2 linked regions of the Homo sapiens genome follow. The protein of the gene in region 1 interacts with the protein of each later gene in a pairwise test. Each region holds a gene or a part of one and is shown on either strand. Other genes may lie near its edges.

Evidence for each region.
Region 2: the proteins of GAN (region 1) and MAP1B interact in binary tests that used the Homo sapiens proteins (3 or more experiments, as listed by UniProt).

Annotation. Positions count from the first base shown.
Region 1 is NC_000016.10:81,387,664-81,391,314, forward strand, and holds the end of GAN (gigaxonin), read left to right. Parts: 3' UTR 1-3,146; downstream 3,147-3,651. UniProt on the Homo sapiens protein: Probable cytoskeletal component that directly or indirectly plays an important role in neurofilament architecture.
Region 2 is NC_000005.10:72,110,400-72,117,702, reverse strand, and holds part of MAP1B (microtubule-associated protein 1B), read right to left. Parts: exon of another isoform or gene 4,216-7,303; intron 2,006-4,215; coding exon 1,904-2,005; intron 1-1,903. UniProt on the Homo sapiens protein: Facilitates tyrosination of alpha-tubulin in neuronal microtubules. Phosphorylated MAP1B is required for proper microtubule dynamics and plays a role in the cytoskeletal changes that accompany neuronal differentiation and neurite extension.

The sequences.
Region 1 (3,651 bases):
AAATTAGCCGAGTGTGTTGGTGGGCCCCTGTAATCCCAGCTACTCGGGAGGTTGAGGGAGGAGAATCACTTGACCCCAGGAGGCAGAGGTTGAAGTGAGCCAGGATTGTGCCACTGTACTCCAGCCTGGGCGACAGAGGGGGACTCTGTCTCACAAAAAAATAAAAAATTAAAAAAAAAGGTCTGCTCAGAAATAGGGGAAACACGGGATCAAGATCATTAGAGATTTATAGGCTGGGATGCACACCATGTCTTCAGAGCTAGCCGGCTGTGTCTTCTCCCCGTTTCTTTCACTGGTGAATAACCTTTCGTTTGAACCAGCCTTGATTGTTCTCTCCATGTTCCACTGTGGCTCCCCATGGACACTGCTAGGTGGAATCTCTGAGAAAACAGGCACTTCGCAGTCGGCGCATCTTTCTCTGCCAGCTTAGGGATTGCCGTCAAGGTGGAGGAAGGGTATTTTGGCCATGTTCGGAGTCGTTGTTTTTACTCACTCTTCTTGGGATAGCTTTCCCACCCTGCCCTCTGCTCCTCTGTCCCAACCCTCTTCCAGCCTGGTTTTTTTACTGCTTGAATTATGTATCCAAAATAAAAAGGAAAAGAAAGGTGCAGTTGGGGCGGGTTGTTGGGGGCGAGGAGAATAGCCCTTCTGGTTCTTCAGACCACATAATGGCCAGAGCATGAGCCTCACAGATCCCTGAGCAGACCTGCATACTAGCACTTTCCACAACCAGCTGGCCCTGGCTGTGAGAGTCAGATCTGTCCCCAAGGCTCCAGGTCAGAACTTGGACCCAGGTGCCTTCTGAGGCACCGCCAAGGACACATCCCAGCGCCTTAGGCACCTGTAGGCTAGAATGACACCTTCCAGGCCAGCCCCAGAGGCCCTCAGGGCTCCCCCTCCAAGCCGGGAGGGCAGGCAGGCACAGGCCCCGCTCACTACCTCAGCACCCAGTGCAGCCCCAGGCTCCCGGACGTGCTCGGCCCGGTGGCCTCTTGTGTGACAGGCCCTCTGCCATGTCTGTCCGCAGAGCCGGGTGGGGACCCTCCGTGTGGGTCCTCCTCTGTCCCTTTGCAGCTCGCATTCGCCAGAGCGGAGCGCAGCCCTTGTTTCCTTCTTTCCTCTTCAGCTCTGACTTAAAAACACACTATGTTCCAAATCGTTGTGGGATCGGAAACTAGAACTGCTTGTTTCCAGGAGAGACCACCTTTTCATATTTTTTTTAAAAGGAATTTGTGCTTCAAAAGAAACTCCAAAAAATAAATTTATTGTTAGTCTAGCATATGCTCATTGAAATTGACTTATGTTTTATTTTAAAAAATCATGTAGGATCTGGTACATGGGGCGGGCAAAAGGGTATCATCAGCTTAAGAAGTAAAGAAGTGAGCCTTCCATTTGTGTGGGTGATAACATCTTTTTCCTAGATCGTACCTCAAAATTCAGGCTCTCCATGAAAACAAAGATAATCTGAATAAAAATTGTGTGTTGGGAAATGTATCAAGTGACCTTCAGTTAAGAAAAGCACAGGCTGTTTATTAGCACAACTTGCTTCATTAAATAATTCGTGGCTTTTTCTGCCACTGGGGTTCTTTTCGTTTTGAATTCAGCTTGTGTTTGGTTCCTCGGTCTTGTACCCCTTCAGTTCGCCGGCGACGTAATGGTGATACCCTTTGTTTTTTGTATCATACCTTTTGTGAATTGTGACAACCATCCCGTAATCATTGTGGCCTCAGCAGAAGTTTTGAACAATCTTTGCAGCCACTGTTGGGGTGTGTACCAGCAGCCTGGAAGTGACCAGCAGAGCTGACAAAAGCACCCCCTGCTCTGCCCACCTCCGCAGAGTCCTGTCCTCATCAGAAACGGTATCGCGGATGCTCCTCAGGTAGGCGTAGGCAGACTTCATTGTGTGTTAGCAGTGACAGTGATGTCTGTACCTATCTGTGAGTGAGACCCATTCATGACACACTAGAAATGTGTACATTCTTTTGTTTTCCATCACGGGTATAGGTCTTCTGCCATGAAAGAGAACTATCAAGGAAATTCCTGAAAACAAGATTTGTAAATTCGATTTGACCCTCCCAAATTCAGGGCTGCTCTTTGCAGTGGTCCCTGGCCCAGCAGGTGGCCGGCGTGGCTCCTGTTGGCTCATGCCAGTGTTGTGCTGGACCCTCGAGTATGTGACTGTCACCCTTGTCCAAGACTGGTTTTTAACAGTCTTGATTTGTCATTTTGATGCTTTGAATACTATAAGGAAAATGCCACGAATACCATATAAATACCACACCAATCTGTTGAACATATCTGTGTTTTCTGACATGGGACCTGCAGAATAGTATTTCTTTTAAATCCTGCAACTTTATTATCTAGTAGAATTCCAAGTAGGTCTGCTTAGACACATATTCAGTGAAGATTGTATTGTGTGTGATATTATCCTATCTTTAATAAAGTCCTACTACTGAAAAACAGGGATTTGCAATGAAAATCATAGCTAAATAGGCAGGTTTAGAAAGTTCAAAATATTGGAAGTGCTAGAAGGCTGCAACTTGTAAAATTGTACTCCCCAAGTTCAGTAGGATAGTAGAGAAGTCGTGCTAAGTTGATTTCATTGAAATGTCACGTCTCACATCCTGTGGTCCAAAGGTACTAGTTTGTTTTGTGGAATAATTTTCTGTTCACTTGCTGATAAGAAATTTAGCAGTCAGAAGTAATTTTTAATTAATAACCTTTCTTTTTAAAAGTTGCTTTATGGTTTACAAGTAATACTGATGCAAAAAGGATTTGTTAACCTAAATTAAGTAGCACGCACTTTGTTTACATGCTTCAGTATATTGTGGGGTTGGTCCCTTCTCACGAACCCAGGACCTGTGCTTGGGGAACATTTTGCCATCATGCTGTTCTCTTGTACCAAGGATCAGTGAAAGTGTTTTATCTTTTTTATGTAGTTTGTATTGACTGGATTTTATAACTGTAAGAAAACAGAAACAGAGTGTTGTATTTTGATCTGAAATTTGTGTATGCTAAAGTAATTTTGTTTTATGTATTGGAAGTTCACTTAAAAACTTGAAATATTTTCTAGAAGGGTACCACACAAAAGGAATCATCTTTAAGCTGTTTAATTAACCTAATAAAATAATTTGATGGGGAAGGCATTCTAATTGTTTCTGATTTTTAGAGTGGTTCCTGCTAAATCATCATTATCAATACAGCTTGATTTGATTTAAGAATGAAACGTTGTCGTTTCTGTCATTTACACGGTGTGGGTGTCAGCTCCTAGACCGTGGCTTGTGATGTTAGATCCGTCCCTTAGCAGCCACACCCCAGTCACTGCCTGAGCCTCTTCCATCGCTGACTGCCTGAGTCTCTCCATCGCTGACTGCCTGAGTCTCTCCATGGCTGACTGCCTGAGTCTTTCCATGGCTGACTGCCTGAGCCTCTCCATCGCCGTCAGCATAAGTCTCCTTGCTGTCTTCCCTGAAAAATGGTTTCAAATTGGCTTTCCTCAGAAGACAGAGAGAAAATAGATTTCGGAGGACTAGAGGACCTTGATATTAAGGGCTTGGTAATATGAGGCAGAATTCCATCTGCAGAAAGCAGATTTCTCTAGTTCCCTCTTACTGCGCTGTCCAGAGACAATAAACCTACAAAGATTGGTAG
Region 2 (7,303 bases), on another chromosome or scaffold:
ACAGCCTCTAGCATAACACTATACAACTAGGTAGGTAACTAATCCTTACTGAAGGTGATAGCAGGAGAAAGGAGAGGAGAATGGGGTACATTAGGCTAAAGTGACAGTTTGGGGGAACTTGATCTTCCTACTCCACAGGAGCAATACTAGGTCTTGGGTCTAGAAATGGTTAATTCTTCAGCAATGCTTGCAGCCTTTCATTATGCAATATGCAGTTGTCACTCTATAAAGTCAGTCCAAATATGAATGAACACAATGAGAACCACATGACTTGTACACACAAAAAAAGAAGTCTTACAAACAATCATAGTAAAAAAGCCAGAACAACCTACAGAGAAAAAATAAAAGCTTGTAGTTTTTACATTTTGAAATAATCATACTTTTTGGAAAACAGCACTTCCCTCATTTTTTTTGTGAGATGGTTTTAAAAGATACGGAGATATCGCAAGACAAAAATACAATAAAATAACAACAAGAGAAACAACCTTATACTGTACCTTTCCTTCAGCAAATCATATGCTGTCTGACAGTCTCTGGATTCCTTTTTTCTCAAAGCAAAGTTACTTAAAAACTGATTTTTCATGTGGCTTTGCAGGAAGTTAACTTTTAATAAACCATTTCTTGCTAAGCTTTTCTTAGCACATTTACTCAATTCCATACTTGAAAGCTACAATGCATTTCAATAACTGAAATGTATGGGATTTTATTCTAATATTAAACTCAAAAGGAAGAACTGAGACAGTCCTATGGGCATATTACTGCAGCCAAATGTGATTCACGAAGGCACTGATATTCTATAAAAGTGATTTCAAATATCAATGTATATACACGACTAATGGAATATGACCTAACCAGTCAAAATAGGCTGAATCTCATTCCTGATGTTATATCAATGCCAATAAAATTAGGAATCATATAACAAAAGCATATGGGCAGAAAATAGCTTTCTCTTATGTAAAATTCAAGTGATGGTCAAGAAATAAGATGTAATACAGTGTTTCTGATGGGTCAATGGCAAAGGTCTGGAGAAATATATTCCAGGTTTGGAGTCTTTATGGGCCAGAAACTGTCTCATAATTCCTAAATGTGACCAAATGGGAGGAATATAGGTTATTGCTCACAAGAAGAAGACGAGATGGGTCAGTATGAATACATCTCCAGCGCCAGAGGCATGGGTCAGATCATAGCCCCAGGAAGGTGGCTGGTTAGTGGGAACATCTTCACATATGACAAATTTTTGCATCCTTACCTTTAATTATTCTTTGATATTCTTTTTCATCTCTGAAAAAAAGGCTATTTTAACAGAAGTTTGTAATATCAGATTCTTTTACCCACACGAAGAAAGATAAGTGGTAATGCAATGGCGGGTGATAATGCAATTATGAAATGATGATGTATATTTCATTTTGAAATGCAGTATATGTTTCCTTTTTCTTTTGCAGGAAGACAGTTCTGGGATCCTAGGAGCATCCAATTTGTATTCAGAATTTCATTTGAGTAAGATTAACATTTAAATAGTTTGTAGTCCCTTGAGCTCAGAGTACAGTGAGATACACATACACACACTATACTATCTCTCTCTCTTTCTCTCTCTCTCTTTCTCAAGCCCTGGATATCAATTCAAAATTTGTGTGATCATTGATGTGTGTGTGTGTATATATATACACATACACAACCCTAGAACTTAAAAACTCATTAAGAATCCACAAAATAGATAACCCACACAGTGATAACCTAGAGTGACTTCCTAAACTGTGGCTGCTGGCTAACCTAGTTGATAATAACAAATACAAAGTATCCTTTTAGCAATAAGAGAGTCTTTTTGCTGCCTCAGACAAAGCTTTCTAGCTTGCTCCTTGTCCTTTGGAATTCTAGGCTGACCAACACTGAGCGGAAGCCTCACCTGGGACTTCAGGAGAGAATCTTGCAGAGTGTCGAGATACAAAAAGTTTGAGTTCTTGGTCCAAGTTGCATTCAATCAGGTTTGTGTCCCATGATCGGATTCCTAGGGAGGGAAAGAAAGACAGTTGAGAGACTTCCAGTTAGTCATTTCAGAGTGGTTTGGACAACATCACTGTAATATTTCTCAGGCTTTCAGGGAGGATGTGGGAACTCCTTTTCTGAAGAGCTTGGTGGCTTAGCAGTGGATGCCCACAAAATGGGAGGGCCAGGGAGGTCTCTCCACCAGGCCACAAGGGAGGGATAATTAGCAGTGTGGACTGAGCTTCTGCCCCTCATAAAAAGTAAATGCACCTCTTCTGGAAGAGTCAAAGAAAACAGTTGTTAGGAAAATGACAGGCTGTACTCCAGGGAGGGACTAGAAAGGGCAGGAAGATGTTAGTTCTTAAGAAGCTAAGAGGCCAACAGACTAACTCTAGCTTGTAGACAGACTAACTCCACTTGTAGGTGGCAAGAAAATGTAGAATAAAGGCAAAGAAAATACACGGGGGCTGCCATTCAAGCACGGGCCTTTGTTTCTAAAATGATGTTCTGGTAGTATACATGTGTAATTTCTTTCCTTTACCAATCCCGTTTTTGACTTTGGTTTATCGAGCCCTGGATATCAATCCAAGATTTATGTGATCTTTGATAAACAGAGTGGATCCACTCAATCTTCAAGACTTGGCCTGTCTGTCCTTCCAGGCACTTTTCTGTTACCTGAGTAGCTTGGCAGGCAGCTCTTTTATTCACAATTGTTCATTGTATTCAATTTTCTTATCCAGAGGCAAAGAAAAATGGCAACTTTTTATACTTTATAAAACATTTATGGAGTTGGGGACATGAATCAGCTATTCCTACCCTAGGCTGAACGGAAAGGAAGTCCTATCAGACTTCCTTTCCCTAGGCTGAAAGGAATATCCAGGGTGAGAGGAACAGGAGGGCAAGAGGCGGGATGAGGGCAGCTTCCTGTGCTCATGCCCTACTCTCTAGCCTCTTCCTTCCTCCTCCCACTGTCCTCTTTCTCCTGCCCTCCCAAAGGGGATGGCCCAGAGGGAACCCCAGAGAGCATCATAGAAGGGAGGTCTGGAGAGTAAGCCAGGGAAAGTTGGGGAACCCCAGAACTCTGGTGTGTGTGTGTGTTTTACATGTTTACATATTATATATTACATTTTTCCTAATAGGTTGCTCATGGTGGAGCCAGTGTGTGGTATCCATCATTGTACCTTTGTATACAGCATTCTCAATTGCCAGGAACAAATCTCTAGAACAACAGACATTTATTGCATACCTCCTAAAGGTAAGGGCTTGAACCTCTAGGTATAACACAGCAGGTGAACTATCTCTAAATTAACACCCAGTCATGTAATCATTTTTGTTGGACATTAGTCATGTATACAGACTTGAAGGAATAAATAGCAGTGTGTTACTTAAATACACACTGGATCCTTAAGGCATATTTGTATTTACCCTTGGTTATATTGTATTCAGTCTTCCTATCCTGTAAAGAATCAAGGTGGATTATACATAGACATTACAAAAAAAAAAGATTCTGGAAACTCAGTTCACTGCACATCTAAAATATCTTTAGATTACACACCACAGACCTTTTCAACCAGGAGGAATATTTTCAAATAGATGTGTGTCCACTAAATACAGGCAGAAATTTCTCATATGATCAATGGGAAGAATTCAGATGTGGAAGAGTTAACGTGCTTAAGGAAAGGTCAAATTATAAGGGAGAATTTTATGGCTCTTCCTGGAAACATTAATAGCCTCAGTTTGCATTTGTGCTAATGGAGTATTTGAATTTTAACAAGAAAGGCATGTTGAGATTTCGCAGATCTTTTTAGTGCAGAAATGATAAATGGGTTCTTTTTGTTTCACAGAGAGCTTGACAGGTTGAGAGGTCTGAATTCATTAGAATATTTTACTTCAATGTATACACTATATACTAGTCTAGTGCAAAAAAATCGAGTTCCTGTCTGAGCTGCTTAATTGGTATTGTTGACTGAATTCTCCTTGTTCCAGGTCTGAGCTCTACTTTGTCTTCTACCCTGTCAAGCTGGGTCAATAAGTTAATAATGAGACATATGCATTTAAATTAAATTCATACAATTTTTCTGTCTTTGTTCTAAGTAATGTCTAAATTGGTACATTATTTGAATGACTTCATCCAGGGTTATCTGCAGACTTGCTCTTACATTGTTACTTGCCATTTTCCCTTGGCTTCAGTTAACTTGTCATGGCACACACAATTAAATGTTTGCTTTATATTTTCATACATATTTTATTTTTGACATATTTGTAATTTAGCAATAGAAAAAGTACTAAATGATAAATCCACTTAGTAATTTCTAAATTATACTAGTAAACGGCTGATAAAAATATTTCTCATTTTTACACTCCCAATGAAACTAAAAATGTAGGGTTCTTTTTTCAAGAGAGCAATTTCCACCCAAATTGTTTCTTAGCAATGCACAACCACTACTACCACTTATAAAATAAAGGTTATGTTGGATTTGCCAGCTATTTTAGTTGGAAAGGAAAATTTTGGAATCAGGCCACTTTCCATACCAATTTTAGAAATAAAATAATTTGTAATTACTTTGTATCTCCTGCTGGATAATATTGGTAAAGGCAAAGAGTAGTTGTTAATGAAGGTTCATATTGCATTTAGTAGGTTTATGTAGTTCCCCTTTGTGCCTAACAAGGAGCCAACAGTGAGCCCTCTAAAGTTTACAGGACAGAAAAATATCTCTTTGGCCCTTCCCATATTCTCCCCTCTCTGAATCTGGCTGGAGGGCATCCTGGGGTGTTGGTGAAGAGGTTCTAAAGAGGCTTTCAGAAGCAAGTCATCCTGGTCTCTGTTGGGGAGCAGGGAAGCCCTCTTTCTAATTTTCACCCCAATATACACCAAGTCAAGCTCTTCCTGGAGGCTTTGTTTCCCCAGCATTCTAAGACTGTACCCCTTCTGGGCTTACCCAGGTGGGGGCAGAATAACTCCAGGCAGTTGGAGGCAGTGAACCCCATTCTTTCAATGTCTGGAGCCAAAAGGCATCCGTCATCTCTGAGAACAATCTGGGCCTGCTCTGTGGCTATTGCCCAGCCCTGAAAGTGAGCTCCTTGGGACCAGGGAGCAACAAAAGATCTTTCCTTCTCAGTTCTCTGACCCCAGGTGGTAGCAGTGCACACAAGGGAGGCTGACATGCACATGATATACACAGATGAGAAAAGGAGAAAAGAATAGGTTATGGGGCAGGGAGGCAGGGAGGGGTCATTAAAGAACAAGTCAGGGTGAAAAATGAGGAGAAGTCAGGTACTCTTGGTGTGTACAGGCTAGATTGTTCCAAGTTTTCCAATCATGTAAGCATTTTGCAGGGTTGTTTAATGAAACCAACAATTTAAAAAAGCACCTCCCATTTAAAAGCTAAAATTCATATTTCTAAAGGTGACAGTGGATTGAAGAAAGCAAAATGAAATGACCATGCATTGTATGTTGATGGCACATGGGTTCTATCTGACAGTTATTTGGGCCTTTGGCAAGTTGATTTTCCTTTATGGGCTTTAGTTGCTCCCTCTGAAAAACAGGCTTTTGGATATTTTTTCCAAGTACCTAAATCATTAACCTAGAATCATAAGATTATATTTGTAAAACTATGCTAAAAAGTGGTCTGAAATCAGATTGAAATCATAAACTAAATAAATGAACTAAAGGAAATGCTACATTTAGGAATGCTTTATTTCTCAGAGGAAAAAATTCTTATTTTTTCCCTTGAACTCATCTTTAATTTGCTTTTTTTCTTTTTTTAAAGCCAGCAACTTGATGTTCATAACATATGTATGTAATGACGATAATATCTTACATACAGAGCTCATAGTTTCAAAGCATTGATAATAAATAATTTAGGTCTGAGATAACATCTTACAACACAAGCAAATGAGAAGTGACATAATTATTTGCTTGTCTAAAAAGTTATAACTTATTTTTTTAAAGTAAGCCCTTAGAGAAGGTGAACAATTTAATGACCTTAAATTTGGGGACTGCCTTGTGTTTCAGCATGGATCACAGAGCTGTCGTAGATAATACCAATTAAGCAGTGCAAGCAGAAATCCATCTGTCTTCGACTTTGAAAAGTATAGGCAAATATAGTAAATTTAAGACTCTCTAACATTTAATTCTCACCACATATGGTATTGGTTTCTTATTTCCCCTGTTAAAAGAAAAGGAAAACTAAACCCCAAATCTTTCCTGGGTTTTAAATTCTCTTACCATCTTAGACTGAAGGACATTCAGTTAAGTGACATCAGAATGTAACAATGTAATCAGCTAAACTTTTATCTAAAAATGCAGAGCAGTAGATGTTACATTCATCTATCTTTTCACCAACAAATCTTGCTGATTCCCAGTGTTAACTAAAGGAAAAGTTATAATCTAACGGTAATTGAAAACATCCAACAGACACTTAATATTCTTTATATGTTTTAGTTCCTTAAAAAAAAAATGAAACAATGAAAACGTTCACAAGGCTCTAGAATTCAGTTTGCAAGACACGGATGTATGTCCTCTATGTATTAAAATAAAACCAAGAAGCAGGGTTTTGCTGAAAATGAGAACCACTAGCTAAATCCATGCTGGGGGCTAATTAGGGAGGAGAAAAAGGAGGTGCCAAAGAGTAGTAGTTGGTGGTAGCGAAAACGATTTGGAATAAAGTCCTGCATAACTAAATAAATGAAGCTAGCCTAGTCCGAGGAAACACTATTGTTCCAAACTCTGGAGGAGACATGTCCAAAGCTTTCATTATGCTTTCCGAATATAGTTGAGAAAGCAAGAGGGACCATCTCTCTTCCCTGGTTTCAAGAGGCATTTACGAAGCATCCACATTGGGACGTTCCAGGCCTGTTGATTTACTGCATTACCACCATGTCTCTACAGATTTATAGATTATTTTCTAGGCTTCCCAGAGAGCCCTCAGTAATCGGATGGCAAGAATCCAAGTCGCCAGGGTCTCCAAACCCAGAATCTCAGTTAAGGCAGGAGGGGAAATAGGAAGAAAGAGTAACAGATGCGGAACTGCCTTCCCAGCCTGCAACACACAATCATCAGAGCTGGCCCCCCTGGAGCAGCTCCATCTTGCTTCACACAACAAGGCCCAAAGGCACCAAGCAACAACAGCAGTGGCCTCTGGAGGAGGCCCAGCTGAGACCTGGCGGCTGAAGCAGCAGCTTGTCGTGCACAGGAAAACAGGACCAGCCTGCTCTGTTGCTAAGTCATCTCAGACTGTCTGAAAAGCTATGGGAGCAGGATTTTCACTTAGCGCTGGAAGGGCCTGCATCTTGAGCTGCAGCCAAGACCCCAGAACCC